Linked DNA regions of Homo sapiens: region 2 is linked to region 1. A link means that fine-mapping ties the variant in region 1 to the expression of a gene that starts in the linked region. Tissue or cell type: whole blood. Region 1 holds a variant in brackets; the other region holds the start of a gene. All regions are shown on one strand. Distances are from middle to middle.

Region 1 (2,500 bases):
GAGGGCAGCTAGGGAGGGAGGGGTGGTCGGCGGAGGCGCCCCTTCCTGCCTCTTCCGAGGACCCAGGCCTGGTCCTGCACCTCTGGGCTCAGGCTCTGTCTCCAGGTCAGGGCTGCCCTGTGCCTGCACACCTTCCCCTGCCCAGCGCGGCCTCCTTTGCAGGGGGACTCTGCGGGGAGCTACTCTGAGGCTGCCCCTCCCTTTCTCTGGGATGTTGGCACCAAAGAGGTGCCCAGGCAGGAAGAGCAGCCTCCCCTCCCCCTCCTCTGCACGTGCAAATGGAAGACAGCCCTGGGCACAGGAGGGGTGGCTGGGGGCAAAGAACCCATCTGGACTGTGGCTTGAGGAGGGGGCAGGGTCAGGGTCTCTGGCAGCTGATGGGACCCCCAGAGAAGCAGAGGAATGTTGGTGCGAGGCCCACCAAGGGGGACCCCATCTTCCTGAGATCTACCGTTTTGGCAGAGCTCTGTGGGACAGACCAAACTTCCCTCTACAGGTGATGAGATTGAGGTCCAGAGAGGGTCTGTGAGCCGCCGGAGGTCATATAGAGGATGCTGCCCACAGAAAGATTCTGCCATGGGCAGGGAAGCCCCACTCCCAGGTGCGGAAGCAGCCACAGGCTCCCAGGCAGCCCTTGCTGAGGGGTGGGGAGAGGAGCGCCTGAGGCTCCTCCGAAGTCGAGGGTCTTTGTCTGGTTTCCTCTCATAGGATCCCTGCCCTTCTACCTAAGGACTGATGAGGTTAGCTCTGAGCGATGCTCCAGTAGTGTGGGGTTTCCACAGGTATCCCCAGAATCTAAAAACAAGAAACAAAAATCTCATGACAAATAGCGGCTGTTGCAGTTATCATGACAGTTAGTGAAAAACTTAGTAATGATTTAGTGATTAACACAGGGTGGACTGTGAGAGGGTGGAAGCCACCTGCGCCATGTTTTGGAGGGGCAGTGCTGTCATTTTGAGTTGGCCCTGGTCATGCAAGGACAGGATGAAGCCAGGCCAAGGTCCCCCATGTCACAATCAGAGTCCAGGTGCTGCCCTGCCTGGAGCTGCC[C/T]TTCCCTGGTGCTGCCCACCTGAAGGCCATGGGACTCTCATCCTACTGTAGGGACGCCCATGCTGTGGCTCCCGGGAGCCCCAACAGGGCGACCGGCAATTTCCTCGGGTGGCCAGGGGACTGACCCGCATGCAGTGATGCTGTGGCCTGGGGCTGAGACGCTAGAGTCACAGAGAAGCCAGTTCACCAACTTTATCAACCTCATTATTGCAATTCTTGTTTTATTCCTGCCCCCACTGGAAAGTGGACTTACGTTCTGTCATCTGCCATGCCATGAGCTGGGGTGCCTGGAAAGTCAGCTCAGGGCCTGGCTCAGGCTGGACCCTGACCAGGCGTCCAGTACTGACTCCGGGACACAGCTCTGCTAGAAGTGAGAAGCAGCATCTCCCACTGACCCCTTCGTTTTGTTCTGTATCTTAGTGTAAGGCATCCCATTTAGGGGAACGTGGTTTCCTGAGCTATTTGGACTGAATCGAAGCACCGTTGGGCTCTTGCCTCCTGTGGTCAGGGCCTCACCTGGGATGGGACACCAACCAAAGCTGCTCTGTGCCCTGGCTGGGCCTCAGCCTCTCGGAGGCAGATAAAGCATGGATCTCCCTGCAGAGTGATGCCCATGTGCCCATGCCCGGCAGCCAGGGTGGCCCTGGCAGCACCCTGAAGCTCACTCATGGTCCAGGAGCCCATGGGCCCATGCCCGGCAGCCAGGGTGGCCCTGGCAGCACCCTGAAGCTCACTCATGGTCCAGGAGAAGAGCTCTGCTTGGTTTCTGCCTGGTTGACTCCCCGACACTTCCGTCTGCCCCCTGCTCAAGCCACCATGCATGAAGGATGCTCTCCAGCTACAGAGAGATGAACCCAGCTGTGCGTGGAGGCTTTTCAATTCTAATAGAGGAACCAAGAAATGTCCCCTTTGAAAGGAGAAGTGTGTCACTGCCATGGGCTCTAGACACATGTACCCCACCTCTGTCTCCAGTTGAGTGCCCATTCTCTGGAAATCCACAAACATTCCAAGAGCTAGACTTCTCCTGAATCATCTCAAATTCTTCGAACTTCACTGGTCTAGGGAAGGATGTGAGGAGGTGACAGAGGGGCGGGGCAAGACCCCCAAAGAGGTTAAATAGGTCACTGCCACCCTCGACTCTCAGCAGGGTGTCTCCCTGAGCAGAGGGACCTGCACACAGAGACTCCCTCCTGGGCTCCTGGCACCATGGCCCCACTGAAGATGCTGGCCCTGGTCACCCTCCTCCTGGGGGCTTCTCTGCAGCACATCCACGCAGGTGAGAGCAGGGGACAGGTGGCCAGGGGCAGGCACCGGGAGGACAGGGGTTGGGGGCATGAAGACCACCACAGCAATACACACGTTTGTGTATTATTTACACCCCACCTACTCCCACAAAAGACGTGAGAAGCCCACAGCACTAGGATTTTGAGGGAAACAAGCAGAGAAAAAT
Region 2 (2,500 bases), 50 kb after region 1:
AAATACGGGTAACAGAAGCCTTCCCACAGACCATCAGCTCCCTTGGCTGCTCTTGTCTGACGATTTTAGTGGTACATTCTTTAGCCCCAGTAATTTTCTCAGCCTCTACACTGGCTGGGTTCCCTTTGCACGTCTGGTTAGCTCTGTTTTCTGCTTTGCTCTCTTCTGCCTGTCAGCTGAATATTAATGGGGGAAAGTCAGCAACTAATTGAATTTCAGATCTCTTGTGGGTCTTCCACTGGATCTTTTTTGCACCTCTCAATTCCTTGTATCTCTTGACATCCTGTGAAGTTTTCGCAGTAGCTGTTCCAGTTTTCATTGCATTCTCCTTTTTCCTTCATAGCATCCATCTTACACTCAGCAGACAACCATAATTCTTAATTTACCAAGATGACACAGGTTATGGAGCAGGGTTCCATCAGTGCCCACCCTCTGTTTCAGGAAGAGGTGTCACTCTTTGCAAAGGCAAACTCCTCTTTATCTGGTTACTCTTCTCCCAACTCTTAAATGTATTTCCTGCCACGTTCTATTTTAGAGCTTTTCTCTGTTGGAGCAGCAGCCACTTTTTTTGAGGCCCATTTAAACCTCTCTCCAGTCTGTTTAGGGGACTTCAGTAGTTCTTTGTTGAGCATGCACCCCACATGGTGCCCACTGCCAGGCACTGGGGATGCAGAGACAAAGAGTTCCCACTCACCCACCACAGCTACACAGACTGTAGAGGAAGCATTAGGTTAAAGAACATTGTATCTTTTCCTGAAGTTTTCAGAAGTGCATGGTCCATACTTGAGACTGCAAGGGAAAGGGTATTTACTTATAATTCAGGTATACTTTGCTAAAATATACATTCATATTAAAATATACTTTTGTTTTTCTATAGATGTACAAGTTCTTTTTAAGTGCTTCATAGTATTCCATGTGTGTATACTCCACCAGGTCTCTTATCAATGGACAGTACAAACAGTACTACCACGAACGTCCCTGCACTCGTATCTTTGTTTACAACTGCAAGTGTTTCTGCAGTATGAATTCTTAGAAGTGTTACTGTTAAGTGAAGGACGTATGCGTGTTTTGCCAAACTACCCTCCGAGATAGCTGAATCTGGTACATTTTAAAGCAGGAGGCCGCAGAAGACGCTCGGCAGTTCTGGCCTCCGAGCAGCAGGCGGCGCTGTGAGTCGTCTTTGCGGAAGCCGCGGAGGCCTCGCTGACTGACTTCCGGTGTTGGCGGTGGCGCCGCGCAGTCACCGCGGAGCAGACGCGGAGGCTGGTGGCCCCTGGGCGAGATGCCGTACGCCAACCAGCCTACCGTGCGGATCACGGAGCTCACTGACGAGAATGTCAAGTTCATCATCGAGAACACCGACCTGGCGTAAGGCTACCGAGGGAAGAGGCTGGCGGCTCTGGGGCGCCGGGAGGCCCAAGCCGGGGCCCCGGGGCAGGGGGCGGGGGTGTAGTGGGGTGGGGTGGGGGCGATGTCCTTCCAGAGCTGCCCCCCTGCACCAGGGCTTTAGCTTTGGGAGCCTGCGGCGCGGGCCCAGCCTGTCGAGGCTGCAGCGCCTTCACGCCCCTTGGCTTTTGATCTTTCAGGGTGGCCAATTCGATTCGGAGGGTCTTCATCGCTGAGGTTCCCATAATAGGTAAGCGACTCCCCTTCCTCGTTCCCGCGCCCACGGGTTCCTGCCCCGCTCTCCACCCACACACTCTTTGGGGCTCCTTCCAGTCCTTGGTTCGGGCTGAGGGTGGTAGTGCTGAGAAAAGTGCATTGCTGGAGACTTGACCATACCCTGTGCCCTTGGCTCAGTGGCCGCCTCCCTGGCGCCCACGGGCCACTTAGGTCCACCCTTGTCCTGGGTATGCATTGCTGAGAAGCATGGGTTTAGCAGTGTGCAGACTTGGGTTCAAATACTGTTTTCACTACTATTGTTACAAAAGTTTTTAAAATGTTTTCAACTTTTATTTTGGAGTCAAGGGGTACATTGGTGCAGGTTTGTTGCCTGGGTATAGTGCGTGATGCTGAGATTTGGGGTATAAATGATCCTTTCACCCAGGTAGTGAGCATAGTACGCAATAGGTAGTTTTTCACCCCTAGCCCCACTGCCTCCCTTCCAGCTCTAGTAGTCACCAGTGTGTTTATTGTCATCTTTATGTCCGTGCGTACCCAGTTTTAGCTCCCATGCGGTGTTTGGTTTTCTGTTCCTGTGTTAATTCTCTTAGGATAATGGCTTCCAGGCCGCGCTCGCGCCTGTAATTCCAGCACTTTGGGAGGCCAAGACTGAGGAACACCTGAGGCCAGGAGTTTGAGACCAGCCTGGCCAACATGGGGAAAGCCCGCCTCTACTAAAAATGCAAAAATTAGCCAGGTGTGGTGGCTCCCACCTGTAATCCCAGCTACTGGGGAGGCTGAGGCAGAATTGATTGAACCCAGAAGGTGGAGGTTGCAGTGAGCCGAGATCATGCCACTGCACTCTGGCCTGGGCAATAGAGTGAGACTCCTTCTCAAA

Evidence for each region. PIP is the estimated chance that this variant, and not a neighbour inherited with it, causes the effect.
Region 2: POLR2C starts here. The variant in region 1 is fine-mapped to the expression of POLR2C in whole blood (TOPMed, PIP 0.99).

Annotation. Positions count from the first base shown.
Region 1 is chr16:57,411,677-57,414,176 of GRCh38, forward strand. It overlaps CCL17 (C-C motif chemokine ligand 17), which reads left to right. Exons shown (of 4, transcript NM_002987.3): 2 at 2,198-2,326. The coding sequence starts at 2,257. Among named protein-coding and RNA genes, the nearest start is that of CCL17, 8.2 kb to the left of the region's middle. RefSeq lists an enhancer at 2,182-2,231. The variant C/T (reference allele first, on the strand shown) is at 1,051.
Region 2 is chr16:57,461,443-57,463,942 of GRCh38, forward strand. It overlaps POLR2C (RNA polymerase II subunit C), which reads left to right and starts at 1,237. Exons shown (of 9, transcript NM_032940.3): 1 at 1,237-1,368; 2 at 1,587-1,636. The coding sequence starts at 1,283. RefSeq lists an enhancer at 1,095-1,389.